Homo sapiens: one gene and its partners. Changing the gene in region 3 together with the main gene of any one other region gives a genetic interaction. Each region holds a gene or a part of one and is shown on either strand. Other genes may lie near its edges.

The links. A genetic interaction does not mean that the proteins touch.
Region 1: changes in XPO1 (region 3) and DMAC1 together harm fitness more than expected from each alone (negative genetic interaction), as found in Homo sapiens cells (one large-scale study listed by BioGRID).
Region 2: changes in XPO1 (region 3) and SFXN1 together harm fitness more than expected from each alone (negative genetic interaction), as found in Homo sapiens cells (one large-scale study listed by BioGRID).
Region 4: changes in XPO1 (region 3) and NAMPT together harm fitness more than expected from each alone (negative genetic interaction), as found in Homo sapiens cells (one large-scale study listed by BioGRID).

Annotation. Positions count from the first base shown.
Region 1 is NC_000009.12:7,796,979-7,801,273, forward strand, and holds the start of DMAC1 (distal membrane-arm assembly complex protein 1), read right to left. Parts: upstream 2,801-4,295; 5' UTR 2,757-2,800; coding exon 2,483-2,756; coding exon of another isoform or gene 2,471-2,482; intron 1,660-2,470; coding exon 1,595-1,659; coding exon of another isoform or gene 1,458-1,594; 3' UTR 1-1,457. UniProt on the Homo sapiens protein: Required for the assembly of the mitochondrial NADH:ubiquinone oxidoreductase complex (complex I). Involved in the assembly of the distal region of complex I.
Region 2 is NC_000005.10:175,477,087-175,481,359, forward strand, and holds the start of SFXN1 (sideroflexin-1), read left to right. Parts: upstream 1-1,473; 5' UTR 1,474-1,553; exon of another isoform or gene 1,554-1,581; intron 1,582-4,273. UniProt on the Homo sapiens protein: Amino acid transporter importing serine, an essential substrate of the mitochondrial branch of the one-carbon pathway, into mitochondria.
Region 3 is NC_000002.12:61,486,357-61,489,856, reverse strand, and holds part of XPO1 (exportin-1), read left to right. Parts: intron 1-1,085; coding exon 1,086-1,269; intron 1,270-1,585; coding exon 1,586-1,692; intron 1,693-3,500. UniProt on the Homo sapiens protein: Mediates the nuclear export of cellular proteins (cargos) bearing a leucine-rich nuclear export signal (NES) and of RNAs.
Region 4 is NC_000007.14:106,264,484-106,267,983, reverse strand, and holds part of NAMPT (nicotinamide phosphoribosyltransferase precursor), read left to right. Parts: intron 1-2,812; coding exon of another isoform or gene 2,813-2,831; exon of another isoform or gene 2,832-3,500.

The DNA of each region.
Region 1 (4,295 bases), on a different chromosome or scaffold from region 3:
GTGTTGTCCAAGGGTCAACTGTATATATATTTAAGAGTTATTATTTACCCAGTAGATCAAGCCAAGACCAAGTTAGGTTTATGTGTTTTTGGTTTAACCAAAGAAAATGTTCAGGGACTAAAGCAGTCCATCAATAGAACAGACTGCCTTTTAAACCAGGGAACAACTTGTCTTTGTAGGTATTTTAGGTATATGAATGACCATATGTATCTGCTTTGGGTCATCCATGGTCCCTTCCAACTTAAAACTTCTCTATTCATGAACATAGCATAACTGAGCTATGGATTTCATATAAATAATATCTTGTTGCGTACTTTAGGTTTGAAATGTTTTCTTTTTCAGTTGCATAGATATATGTAGCACCATCCCCGCTATGAACTCTGATGTAGAAAATACAAGATTCTAAAGTCATCTGTGAGGCTAAATAGACTTAGGCACTTCCACATAATGCTGCAAAAAGCAACAGCCGTAAAGGTACTACCTGCTCAACATGTCATTCCAAACAAATACACTATGATTAGCAGCTGAATTTAACAGTATCTTTCCGCTTTGAAAAACACTTTATATACCTTTACAAAGAAGCCATAGTATCTCAGGGTAGAAAAACCCAATAGGTAGAAAACATGGCCTTCTCTTAGAAATGAACTATGTAATTTTGAGTACTTATCTCAAAATCATCACAGAAACATATCTAGTGCTTGTGGAAAAAGAATCAAAAGATCTTTTTTTTTTTTAGCTAAAGGTTTTGAATTTTTCTTGTGACATTTAAGTCTTTTATTGTATGCTGATTTTTATGATTATCTAACTGTTTCATAATGGTTATTCTTGCCTCCATGAAAGGGAAGACTAGAACAAAAAACTGACAAGAACAAGTTCTAGCTCCATCACGGACTTACTGAATGACCCTAGGCAAATCATGTGGGCTCTTTCTTGTGTTTTAAGTTTTACCTCCAATGAAGTAACTACCTCAGACTAGCTGTGAAGCTCTCATAAGGTGATGGATTTGAAAATGCCTTGCAAAGTATCAGCAATTCATACACAGAAAATTTCACGTACTTCTATATATTGCATGATGCCCACCCAGGGTTAGGTTAACAGTTGTTGATCCAATTATGAAAGAAATAAAAAGAACTCTTTAAAATAATGAAGTAAAATAGCTAATTTTCCCGTTGGTTTACCATATGCTGTATTTAAAAGTTTTAAAAATTATACTAACTATATAACTAAACATATTTATGTTTATTATATATAATATGACATGCAATTATATAAGACATACTATTATGTTTATATATAATGCTTAATTAAGCAATTATATTTAAATATAAGTTATACTTTCCTTCCCCAGATAAGACAAAGAACCTGTTTACTTCTCTGAGGGATTTATTGGTTCCTGTGAAATCTGTGAAGGCCACAAACACTCCATAGCCAGAGAATGACAACATACGATTTTCTTCTCAGTCTTGTAGTATCCACAGTAGTGATGTCTGTCCATGTACAAGTGTCTGTCCAGAACACCCATTAAATTCCATGCCTGCTGTGTGTGTCACGGGGAAAGGGACAGAGACAGAAGACAGATTCACTGGTGGTACTTTCAAACAACGCGGTAGGCCTTCCCTTTGGGGTCTGCCATGACAACGATACCCCAGGTGGCAATGCCTAGAAAAAAAACAACAATACCTTACCTTTATGCTGCATTTAAATTTACCAAGTGTTTCACATATACGCCATCTTATTTAACCCTCACAACACTTCTGGAGGATATATTACCATTGTATCTTTCTTATAAGGCAAGTGAAGCACAGAAAAAGAAAAAAAAATCAGGAAAAAAAAGAATATCCTGTAGGAGAATTTACCTATACAGGATCAAGAAGGTAAGACAGTTAGAAACCTAAAATTCTATTCACTGACAATCGGTTTGAAAGCTAAAAAAATCATGACGTTTGATTGGATGACATCTTGACGATCACAGAACGGGGCTGTGGGCCACATTACCCAGGTGTACCAAGTAGGTGAGCTTAGAATCCACGTCTAAAGATCTGGGATTCAAGGCAAATTTCTTAAATTAAGGTCAAGGGCCCTCGCTCAGGCTTTCTCCAGGACCTGGAGAAAAAGTATGGGCTTTGAGATCTGATATACCTGGGATCAAGTGACTGTCATTTCCTGACCATGAACACAATACTCCTCGTTGCCTCGGTTTGCTCCACAGTAAATACTATAATCATACCTACTTCTAACAGCTATTCTGAGAATTAAAAGGGCTGAGTCTAATAAGGGTTCTCAAGAAATACTAACTTAAAATTAAAAAAAAAAAAAGAAAGGCGTTCCAACAACTTCCTCTCCCACCTTGTTTGAGGTGCCCCCACCACCTGACCAGCGGCAGCACCCCGCCTCCCCGCCTCCCCGCCCACGTGGCTGCTCCGTTTCCTTCCTCTACCCCGCAGATACCCAACCCGCCCAAGTGCTGTGCCTTGATTCTCACTGAGGCCGATGACCATCTGCGTAATGGTCCATGGACTCGGGGGGTATCCCATCTTCATGGGCTTCCGTGCCACCCAGTACACGTACCCGCCCGCCCCCATCAGCCCCAACCCAGAAAGCACGCGACAGCTCCAGCAGGTCTTCAACAGGCGGTGTTCTGCTGGGGAGGTCGGCGCTCCGGGTGTAGCTGGGGGCGCAGGTTTGGCGGGCGCGGCGGCGGTACCGGGAGGCGCAGTGATATAGGACTCAAAAGGCTGGGACAACCGAGACCCCATGCTCTGGAACTCGGCCTCAACCTTGGGCGTCTTTGGTTCAAACTGGCGTAAACGACGCACCGGAAGGCAGAGCGCCGGAAAGCAGAATGCCGGGACGCTAGCGCAGTGCGCGGAGGAATCTTAAGGGCTGCTGGGAAATGAAGTTCTCCTCCGCTTCAGAGGCGGAAAAGGTGAAAGAATGCTGCTCTTTCCTGCTGGATTTCTCTGGCAGCAACAACCTTGTATGCGCTGGAGGACAATTCCAGCCCTCCTCCCCGCCGCCCCCCCCGCCCCCACTGTTTTAGAAATTCTGTAATCGCTACTCACTAAATGAATCACCTTTCAGTCTCCTTAAAGAAGTCTGGCTCTCTTAAGTTTCCTGCCTCACATGAACTGCGAGACCTTGGGCATGTCATATCTCCTATCCAGAGGCCTGTGAATCAAGGAGTTGGGTTTTATATGTGCATAATCATGTGCTAGATACAGACATACCATAGCGATTGCAGGTTTGGTTCTAGACCAACACAATACAGCAAATATCTCGATAAAGCAAGCCATGCAATTTTTTTTTGGTTTCTCCGTGCATATAAAAGTTGTTTATACTGTAGTCTATTAAATGTGCAGTAGCATTGTGTCTAAAAAACAGTATATATATCTTAATTTAAAAAACATCTTGCCCAAAAAATGGTAACGATTACCTTAGCCTTCAGTAAATCCTAATCTTTTTTTTTTTTTTTTTTTTGAGGTGGAGTTTTGCTCTTGTTGCCCAGACTGCCCAGTGCAATGGCACAATCTCGGCTCACTGCAACTTCCGCCTCCCGGGTTCAAGTGATTCTCCTGCCTCAGCCTCTCGAGTAGCTTGGATTACAGATGCCTGCCACCACGCCTGGCTAATTTTTTTGTATTTTTAGTAGAGACGGGGTTTCACCATGTTGGCTAGGCTATTCTCAAACTCCTGACCTCAGGTAATCCACCTGCCTTGGCCTCTCAAAGTGCTGGGATTACAGGCATGAGCCACCGCACCTGGCCACTTCTAATCTTTTTGCTGGTGGAGGGTCTGGCCTTGATGGTGATGGCTGCTGACTGATCAAGGTAGTGGTTGCTGAAGGTTGGGGTAACTGTGCCAATTTCTTAAAATAAGACAATAATGAAATTTTCTGCAAGAATTGACTCTTCCTTTTACGAAAGATTTTTTTGCAACATGCAATGCCGTTTTATAGCATTTTAATAACCACTATATAACGTCTTTCAAAATTGGAGCCCTTTATCCAACATTTTGACAATGTTCATAGCATCTTCACCAGGAGTAGATTCCGTCTCAAAAAACCACTTTCTTCATCCATAGGAAGTAACCCCTCATCTGTTCAAGTTTTATCATGAGATTGTGGCAATTCAGTCACATCATCAGGCTCCACTTCTAATTCTAGTTCTCTTGCTATTTCCACCACATCTGCTGTTACTTCCCTCATCTGAAATCTTGAACCCTTCTTAGTTGTTCATAAAGATTGGAATCAATTTCTTCCAATATCCAGTTAGGGATATTTTGATCTCCTCCCATGA
Region 2 (4,273 bases), on a different chromosome or scaffold from region 3:
GCAGTGGCACAATCTCAGCCGACTGCAACCTCCACATCCCAGGCTCCAGCAATCCTGCTACCTCAGCCTCCTGAGTAGCTGGGACCATACGCCACCATGCCCAGGTAATTTTTTGTATTTCTGGTAGAGATGGGGTTTTACCATGTTGTCCAGGCTTAAACTTCTTAGCTCAGGTGATCCACCCACTCCGGCCTCCCAAAGTGCTAAGATTATAGGCATGAGCCACAGTGCCCAGCCAAGAAGGGGCGATCTTTTATATATCTTTTTGAGCCCAGCACTTGGCACAGGGTATGGTACAGAGAAAAAGCTAGTTAAACATTCATAGGAATTTGGAGGATGAGGAATAGCACTCAAAATATCTGTGACATATTGCTTAAGTTTTAGAAGTTTTGTTTTTCACGTTTGGATCATTAATCCACCTGGAGTTGAGTTTCATGTATTATACAAGTAGGGATTTGGCTATCCCAGTACTGTTTAATGAATATCTAACCTTTGTCCCCTGACCTGTGATGCCAACTCACAGCAGGTTTCTACATGTGCAGGTTTCTACATGGATGGCAACTCTATTTGGCTCCGCGAGGCTCTTTGTTGACCCCGGAGCAAACACACCACCTTTGTTATTTACCATTGTTTTATAACAAGTTTTGTATCTGCAGGACAAGTCACTCTGCCTTGCTCTTTTCTTAAAAGCTTGTTTGGCTGTTTCTGGCTCTTTATTTTTTTCATGTACATTTTGCAGTCCGCTTGTGCAGTTATAACACACACTCCACCAAGCACACTAGTGTTGTCGAATTTTTTTTTATTGTCATAGGTCATTTGGGAGAGAATTTACATCTTTAAAAATGGAATCTTCCTATGCAATTTATGATGTAATTCACCATTTATTAGATTTCATTTGCCCTTTAAATATGCCCAGGTTACCCACCTGGTCCAAAATACCATGATTCCTCTCCTGGATAACCACAGCATCTGGCTAAACAGCCTCTCTGCCTCCACATCCCCTCCCACGCAGTCTGTTCTCCATAAAGAAGACAGAGTGCGCCGTTGTTGTTGTTGTTGTTTAAGACATAAATCAGGTCGTGGCACTAAAGTCCTAAAATCGCCTTGTAGCGCCAGTCTTGCCAAGCTCCACACTTTAATTGGGTAAATGACTGCGTGAACGGATGCTGGCTACGCCAAGGCCCTGGGAATAAAGAAATGATAAAGAAGCAGTCCCTTAAGGGAAACCCAAATGGAACATAGTGGCCCCAGCCCGCGCAGAGCCCCACACCACCGTGAGGATGGGCTTGGAGTTCCTCTTGGACCCGGGGCGCGGTCGCTAAGCCAGAAGCGGAGTCGCGGGCGCGGGGCGGGGCCTGGACCCGGGCCTGGACCCGGAGGGCGGGTCCCTGGGCCTCGTAGCTCCCGGGCCCGGACGCGCGCTCACAGGCGCGCGCGAGGACGCGCTCCGGGGACGCGCGAGGACGCCGTGGCGGGAGAAGCGTTTCCGGTGGCGGCGGAGGCTGCACTGAGCGGGACCTGCGAGCAGCGCGGGCGGCAGCCCGGGGGAAGCGGTGAGTCGCGGGCGGCAGGCCCAGCCAGGTGGGTGGGGAAACGCGCAGGGGGCCCGGCGGAGGCGCGCAGGCTTGGGCAGGCTCGGGCCGTGCACCCGCGGGCCGGCTGCGGGGAGACCCCGGGCTCGGAGGTCGGAAGCCCCTTTGCGGGCCGGGGATGCCTCGGGCCGGGGGGGGGGTCCCTGCACCTGGGGATCCCTGGCATCCTGCGGCCGGACAACACCACGCTTCCAGCATCCCGAGGCCCAGCATCCCGTGGGCCTCGTCCCCGGTGGGAAGGGCCCTCCGCCGCGTCCCCGCGCGCCTGGCCGCGCTGTCTTCGGCGCCTGCGTGGCGAACTCGCTCCGGGGACACCAAGATGGCTGCCTCGGGGGCAGCGGCAGCCAGGTGGCCCAGTGCCTGGCCCAGCGCTCCGCGCTCTCGGCTTTGCCTCCTGGTGCTGGGGGTCGGAGGGGAGACCACCTGGTTCCTGCCCTAGAACTCGCAATCCAGTAGGGAGGTGATGTGCAAGGAAGTAGATTCTTGGAGTAGTAGTTGGTCCTACAGGGACCTTGCATTTTCACGCTTTTCTCCTGAACTTTCACGTCTGTCACAGGTCTCTAACCTGCCCAGAATGACAATAAACAGTCTACTAAGTGCGTGCCAGGTGACTTAGGTCCATATACTTTTACACTCTTCCGGCCCTGCGAGGTACTGGGTGTTGGCTCTATAATCCACATGAGAAAACTGGGGCTCTGAGAGGTTGAGTGCCCAAGGTCACACAGCTGGCCATCCATAGTCCAAGGCCATCTGAGTCTCAGTCGTAAATACTGCGTTCTCAAAGACGCTTTTCCTTGGCTATGCTGTCTAAAATTGCACCCCCCATCCCCCCACACACCCTTTGTAACACAAACTCTGGGTTTTTTCTCTTTAGTGTCTTTTGTCACTAGTTGAAATTAAAGGTGTTTACATGTTTTCTTCTCCTCATGTGAACAGGGCCTATTTTGTGTTGCTCAGCCTATCTATCCCCTGCGCATAACAATTGCCTGCACCAAGAAGGCCCTCAATGAGTATTTGTTGACTGCCTGAACGAAAAAGCCTAGCTCTGCTTCACTCCAGAGCCTGGGCACTTAGCTGCTCCGTAGGCAACTCTTTTCTGCGCCCCCATAGCTTTTTCCCTGCACATTTCTCACAGTCCTAGTCCCTCTTCTGCGTTGACTTCTAGATTTTGACTTGGGTGCCTTTGGATTCTCCCTTCTTTGTCCATCCCCCTTTTACTGATCTGCTTCAGTGTTCTAGGCATTGTTATAGGTGCCCAGGGAGGATGCAGGTAAATGAGGAGGCTTTGCAGCTCCTACAGCTTCAGACTTGATATAAAAGATGAGAGGGAACTGTTTGGGAGGATGAATGGGGTGGCTACCAAGAAGTTCTGGGACCTCAAGCAGATCCTTTCTCTCCTCAGCACTGAGCAGGTGTCTCACTTTCAAAAATACAGTGTTTGGGCCAGGCGCGGTGGCTCACGCCTGTAATCCCAGCACTTTGGGTGGCCGAGGCGGGCGGATCACGAGGTCAGGAGATCAAGACCATCCTGGCTAAGCCGGTGAAACCCCGTCTCTACTAAAAATACAAAAAATTAGCTGGGCGTGGTTGCGGGCGCCTGTAGTCCCAGCTACTCGGGAGGCTGAGGCAGGAGAATGGCCTGAACCCGGGAGGCGGAGCTTGCAGTGAGCCGAGATCGCGCCACTGCACTCCAGCCTGGGCGACAGAGCAAGACTCCGTCTTAAAAAAAAAAAAATACAGTGTTTGGCAGGGAGGAGCTATCAGCTCCCATCTCAGCTTAGTACGTATTCAGAGGTTAGATTGAGGCTTTCAGGCCACATGGATGTTCAGAAAAGGGATGATATCTGTGGTTACAGTTGTCAGAGAGGACCCTATATGGCAAAGGGTGTCATAATTCAGGATCAGTGAAGTGTTTAGCTGTTCTTAATTTTCTGTAAAAGTTCTATGAAACCCCATGGGGATGGATACAGAAAGGCACCAACTGGCAGGGAATATCCCTTCCTGCTCCTCACTTCCTGCAGAGAAAGCTGAGAGGACAGCCTGGACAGCAAAGGTGGTAAGAGCAGACCCGTCATCAAACGTTGTTGTTCTGGAAGACTTACGTTGAAGTCAGGCATCTGTATCCTGTTGTGTAGCAGTGGTGAGCTGCATTCAGTTAGAGTAGAACCATGAGTGTGACCAATTTTTCCTTTGTGGTTAAAGGTAAGAAATCAAAAGTAGTGAATCCATTTTTTAAAAAGGGGGGAACAAAGGGCTGTTGTCCAGAAAGTGAAAAGTCATTAAATTAGACCATGTGTCAAACCTGCACTTAATTACACAAAGTTCAAAGTTACTAAGTTTTTCTTTAGCAGCTGTTAATTTGTAAAATAGTTTTATAGACTTTGGTATATGGCATCTCCGAGTTGATTCTTATACATGGATGGTAAAACTTCATCCAAATATGTCTAAAATTCTAGTTTAGTGTTGTTCATTTTTTGCAGGCTGATATCACCATCTCAAATAGAAATCAGAAGATTTTTTTTTAACTGTAATAACATCACCCATCCTAAGATACTGCTTAAGAAATCCATGCCCATAGTTGATCTTGAGGACTGGAATATGAGCAATGGTTGTAATGTTACATCCGTGTTTTTGTTTTTTGTTGTTGTTTGTTTGGTTTTTGAGATGGAGTCTCGCTCTGT
Region 3 (3,500 bases):
ATAGGCTGGGTGTGGTGGCTCATGCCTGTAATCCCAGCACTTTGGGAGGCCGAGGCAGGCGGATCACCAGGTCAGGGGATCGAGACCATCATGGCTAACGCAGTGAAACCCTGTCTCTACTAAAAATACAAAAATTAGCTGAGTGTGGCGGCGGGCGCCTGTAAGTCCCAGCTACTCAGGAGGCTGAGGCAGGAGAATGGCGTGAACCTGGGAGGCAGAGCTTGCAGTGAGCCGAGATCACGCCGCTGCACTCTAGCCTGGGCAACAGAACGAGACTCCGTCCCAAAAAAAAAAAAATAGAACTATATTACTTCATTCTTAAGTAGATGTAGACAAAAAGGCGTTTGTGTTCGTTTTTACCATTTGGGATTATAAATATGGTTTAGGGTAAGGGAAGCGTAATGGCTTTTGCTTTGGTAATTATGTGGATTTTTTTTTTTTTTGAGATGGAGTTTCACTCTTGGTGCCCGGGCTGGAGTGCAATGGCGTGATCTCGGCTCACTGCAACCTCTGCCTCCCGAGCTCAAGCAGTTCTCCTGCCTCAGCCTCCCAAGTGGCTGGGATTACAAGCAAGCACCATTGTGCCTGGCTAATTTTGTATTTTTAGTAGAGACAGGGTTTCTCCATGTTGGTCAGGCTGGTCTTGAACTCCCGACCTCAGGTGATGCACCCGACTCAGCCTCCCAAAGTGCTGGGATTATAGGTGTGAGCCACCTCGCCTGGCCATTATGATGGATAATTCTTTTTTTTTTTTTGAGACGGAGTCTTGCTCTTTCGCCCAGGCTGGAGTGCAGTGGTGCGATCTCGGCTCACTGCAAACTCCATCTCTAGCGTTCACGCCGTTCTCCTGCCTCAACCTCCCGAGTAGGTGGGACTACAGGCGGCTGCCACCACGCCTGGCTATTTTTTTTGTATTTTTAGTAGAGACGGGGTTTCACCGTGTTATCCAGGATGGTCCCGATCTCCTGAACTCATCATCCGCCCGCCTCGGCCTCTCAGAGTGCTGGGATTACAGGCGTGAGCCACTGTTCCCAGCCGTGGATAATTCTTATATGATAAATGGAATTTGCTTTTTTTCCTCCAAGAATGTGGATATACTGAAAGATCCTGAAACAGTCAAGCAGCTTGGTAGCATTTTGAAAACAAATGTGAGAGCCTGCAAAGCTGTTGGACACCCCTTTGTAATTCAGCTTGGAAGAATTTATTTAGATATGCTTAATGTATACAAGTGCCTCAGTGAAAATATTTCTGCAGCTATCCAAGCTAATGGTAGGTGATTCTGATTTCTTACACAATGCAGTATAAACAAACCACTTCTCTTCTACTGCCTTAAGTCAAACATTTGATGTTTTTTACAGATTTAAATCAGACCTCCCATTTCCCAAATGACCCTAGACATATTTAAAACAGTTAAGTGTACCTTTCCCTTTTAAAATTAGTCTTAAAGCTTATTTTCCCAATAAATTTTGTGAACTTTTGGCTTTAAACTTTTTAATGGTAAAATGGAATTGCATCTAATGTACACCTGAGTACCACTGTATAAGTTTAGTGGTAAAATTAGATTCCATTTGATTCTGTTTTGTAGGTGAAATGGTTACAAAGCAACCATTGATTAGAAGTATGCGAACTGTAAAAAGGGAAACTTTAAAGTTAATATCTGGTTGGGTGAGCCGATCCAATGATCCACAGATGGTAAGTGAGAGATGCTTTGCTTTTGATTTCTAGTGTTGATGCTGTGTTTTATGGAATATGCTATACTCTATTATGTGCATTTTGCTAATTTAAAGCATATCAACTTTGTGGTTATTTTATGGCATTTTATTTATTGTAGTCCTTACGTTAATATACTAATAGCTGTATTCCATCTTCAAAAGAAACTGCTGTTAATCAGTAGCGAAGGGTGGTGATATGTAACAAGATAGCTAAGAAAATTGGGTCATTTTATGTTTCCATAGATAGGTTAGGAGGATTTAATTAATGGAGTACCGGTGCAGTTTTTGCATTCCTCTTGATTTTTAGAACAATTGCTAGAGCTACAAAGTTGTCATTACTTTACCTCTTTAGCAAAGTGATTGCTTCCCAGATTAAAGGCCTGAAAGTCTTTTTTACACCCTTTTTCCTAAATGATTTGCAGAAAAGGAAATCATTTTCAGTAATAAAAACCAGCTGCGTATGCCTCAACTTGTAAAATTGTGAATTAGTTTTAGGTTTTAACTGTATCGTTTCATTCTTGTTATTCAATTGAGCCTTGGGAGAGTCCAAAAAATTCTAATACTACTATTACTTGGAATAGTGTTGGTTTTTTGTTTTTTGGTTTTTTTTTTTACAAGTGTGCTAGTTATTTTCATAGTTTTGAAATTTCAGTATTGTTTCTTGTTAAGGAAATACTTTTCAGTAAACTTGTTCTGAATATAATTCTTGTGGAATACTTAAGTTGGCTAACCTAAATATCGAAAGGTTCTGAACATGCGTATTATGTGAACAGAACTGTATTTAAAATTTGAAAGCAGAAAGTAAGATGTATTGAAGGAATTGTGATGTTTGTAATTTACAAGAAGCTTGAGCACGTGTCGGGAGCACAGTGGGAATAATACAAAGGGTATCATCTTTTGTAACATTAATGTTAAAGTTTGGGATATTTGTTCACATGAAACATTGTGTTTATTTTCCTTGTCTTGGCTTTTCACGGTGGCTCATGCCTGTAATCCCAGCACTTTGGGAGGCCGAGGCGGGTGGATCACTTGAAGTCAGGAGGCTGAGGCAGGAGAATCACTTGAACCCCAGAGGTGGAGGTGACAGTGAGCCAAGATTGCGCCATTGCACCCCAGTCTGGGCCACAAGTGGGAAACTTCGTCTCAAAAAAAAAAAAAGAACAAGAAGTTACTCTTTAAGTATAACTCAGTTTACTTAGAATCATGAAAATCTTACTGGGCATTGTAGCATGCACCTGTAATCCCAACCACCAGGGAGGGTAAGGCAGGCGAATCACCCCAGCTCAAGTCCAGTTTAGGCAACATGGCAAGATTCAGTTTCAAAAAAATAATAGAAATCCATAGTCTTTCTTATTTTCTGAGAGTAATTGATTGATGTTATTTCTGCTTGTGAAAATACTCACCAGTTAGCATTCATTAGATTAAAACATTAGTCTGAGTTGGGTGGATCACGAGGTCAGGAAATCAAGACCATCCTGGCTAACACGGTGAAACACCCCGTCTCTACTAAAAATATAAAAAATTAGCTGGGCGTGGTGGCAGGTGCCTGTACTCCCAGCTACTCGATAGGCTGAGGCAGGAGAATGGCGTGAACCTGGAGGCGGAGCTTGCAGTGAGCCAAGATGGCACCACTGCACTCCAGCCTGGGCGACAGAGCAAGACTCCGTCTCAAAAATAAAAAGACAGTATTGAGGGCTCGCTTGCTGCCATCTTACATATACAGTATACGTAGAATCCTGATTCTGCCACCTAAGTTGGAGACACCCACTGAATTTTGAGCCTCACTTT
Region 4 (3,500 bases), on a different chromosome or scaffold from region 3:
TTGTCTGCTTTCAGTAAACTATCTCCAGTTACCCAAGAAAGAAATTACAATCTAAACTGCAGCTGCTCTGGTCCTAGAGCTAACTTTATTAAAAGTAAATCAGGTTGTTTTTTTTTTTTTTTTTTTTTTTTTTTTTTTTTTTTGAGACGGAGTCTCGCTCTGTCGCCCAGGCTGGAGTGCAGTGGCGGGATCTCGGCTCACTGCAAGCTCCGCCTCCCAGGTTCACGCCATTCTCCTGCCTCAGCCTCCCAAGTAGCTGGGACTACAGGCGCCCGCCACTACGCCCGGCTAATTTTTTGTATTTTTAGTAGAGACGGGGTTTCACCGTTTTAGTCAGGATGGTCTCGATCTCCTGACCTCGTGATCCGCCTGCCTCGGCCTCCCAAAGTGCTGGGATTACAGGCGTGAGCCACCGCGCCCGGCGTAAATCAGGTTTTTTAAATGTTTGCCAAACCTTATCACTGACTTTTATAACAAAATTATTTACTATAATCATTAGGGAATATTTAAGTTCTGCTAATACTTAAAATTGCAGAGTGCTAAAACCAGCAGTGAGTTTAGAATCAAGCTAAGCTTTATTGTTGCTACTATTTGAGGCATATTAGTTGACTGGTGTTCATATGCAAGGCAGTCTACTGGGTGCAACAAGGGTTAGAAGGATATTTTTAAAAAACTGACCCTATTCTCAGGATGAAAATAATACACTAGTAATAGTCTGCTCTGTTGGTTAACTCCTCGTAAGGAGGTACAATTAAAATGCTGTAGTGTTGCAAGGGAAGGAGAGGAAGAATCATATTCCTTCACTAGCAGGATCAAGAAAGCTTTTATAGAAATATACAAAATCTTCACTTCTTGAAGGATTGGTAAAATTTAATAGCCAACATTGGGCACTTATTCATTCTCTGAGTAAATATTTATTGCATGCTTATCTTGTATCAAGCATTGTGATGAAAGCACAAGAATGAAAGAGGAGGGAGAATGTTTAGAGAATAAGGGCTGAAACACAGATTTTGTAGGGAGCGTAGGGGAGACTGAGAAGACAGGTTCAGGTTAGTAAGGGCGCTCATATTTTGACACTGAATGTTAACTATGTGCACATCATGCTAGCTATTCTAAATCAGGCATTTTCAAATGGAAGCAGGCACTGACATTTTTGAGCAAAGACGTGATGTTATGAGATAAATATCTTAGGGGACTTTTTTATATTTTTATAGCAGGATATCTATCCTATGGATTGAAAAAAGGAAAAATCAGAAGGTAGTCTTTATAGGAAGCTATTCCAGCAGTCTTAAGGTAATGAAGTCCAGACCAAGGTGCTAAATAAATGGAAAGAAATAGGTAAACATGAGCAATGGCTTGGGAGATAAAATTGCTCAAAGTTGGTAATTTGAGTTGGGACTCAGTAGAAAATAGATTCAGCTGACGTTTATGAGCATTGTATTAGTAAGGCCTTGTTGAACACTTTTACATACAACTTTCAAGACTAGGAAACTGGGAAAATAAGAGTGTCTTTAACAAAGTTTTAAGAGTTATTTTTAGTTTGGCCTTAGATGTACATACATCTTTTAAAAATCTAACATAGTATGCACATATTAGACTCTTCGTTGATGGTTATTTCAAAGTAGTAACATCATGATACGGAGGACAAGGATAATATCTTCTTTAGGACTTGTTAAAATGAAAAGGATACTGTATGTGGGCAAGGGATAAAAATCCATTTTATTTTTATGGTCTCATATTGATTGCATTTGTAAAATTTGACTCCTTATATATTCAAATGCCTCACATGTTCTTAATAGAATGTCTTTTAAACAACAGCGTAGTATAGCAAAAAGAGGATTGGACTGAAAGTTGGGAAACCTGGGTGACCTTCCGGCTGACATAGTGGGTGGCCTTGGGCAAGTCACTTATCTCTCTGTTCTTCATTTCTTCCATCCAACCAAACAAAAGGAGGAGCTAAAGTTTTACATCTCCAACATGACAAGGTCATTGATGATAAATGAGCTACTATCTAAATAACTTTAAAATAAGAGAACTCTATAAATTTAGAGGTTTACCACTATTGTATGTATCTTAATAGATGAATCTGCACCTAAAAATATTTAATTACAGAAGCTTTTTTTCTCAAACTTTGGAAAGGTATCAAATTTAATTTGGTGCTTGAAATTAGGATTTATGGCATTGGTAGAATTCATTGATTATTTATGATCTTCATATATCACATACTGTACTAGAAGAATAGAGGTTATGATTGGACTAGACAGAGAGTGCCAGAGCAAGTATCTGTGGGATGCTGAGATGAAGATATTCAACTTTCTATCTAACAAAGTAGATCCAGAGCCTGGAAGAAAAACAGAGGCTAAGATACAGATACTGGAAACCCTCATGCAGGGACTTTTTTTTTTTTTTTTTTTTTAAGCTTTTGAGTGTTTCACACAAGGTATGTTACAGAAGACAAGTGCCTAAGTCAGAACTATGAGAAATATTGCCATCTGACAGGTTAGATTAAAGAAGGAGAGCACAGCATCTGGGAAGACTGAAAAGGGAACCATAGAAATAGGGGAAAAAAGGTGAAACATGGGAGATGTCATTGAAGTCAAGAGAAAGAAAGCATCAGGAAAATTCAGGTGTCATGGAGAAAGCAAGTAAGATGGGGACAGTGAAGTTTGCTAGACATGATACAAGTAGATCGTTAGGTGACTTACTGATACAACGTTATAAGTAGTGACCCCTTAACTGTAGGAGTTAATTCATACGTTGTAAAGTTCTCCAGTATTGGTATTCATTGATCTTAATTCTCTCCTTTTTAAAGAGAAAAGTTGCAGACCTGAATATGAAGAGGAGCTTCTCTTCAGTCATATCTTAATTTTCCATTTAGCCTACAGATGCATGAAGTAGAGAATTGACATCATAGCTACTGGCAGCCTCTGTAGCTGTTAAGAAGAGTGTTCACTAATGAGTTTTATATAAACAGGTTCTCTCTCAATTTTGGATTCGGGTAGTAGTCTTTACAATCTTGAAATGTGCATGCTGCACTACCCCAGGTATACCATTGACAGTATGGGGAAAGGTTCTAAGTCTAGTCCTTTAAAAAAAAAAACACACACACACATTGTATAAAGTGATTATTTCAGACATAAAGTCTGACTCTTCAAACAGTTATGAGTTAAACTTATACCTACTTGGGCTTTATAATAAATGAATGTGCTATCTTTTTATTATTTACTGAGGAGAACAGATTAGAGGCGGACTAGAAAATTAGGGAGAATGACCAATTGCTTGGCATAATTAAATGGTAATTTTCAAAATTAAGTTGTTTGAGATCTTTTAAAATTATTTACATTATATATTAACAAATATTTACACAGGTTGAGCATCCCAAATCCAAAATGCTCCAAAATCTGAAACTTTTTGCTCAAAGGAAATGCTCATTGGAGCATTTCAGATTTCAGAACTGGATTTCAGATTTCAGAACTGGGGATGCTTAACTGATAAGTATA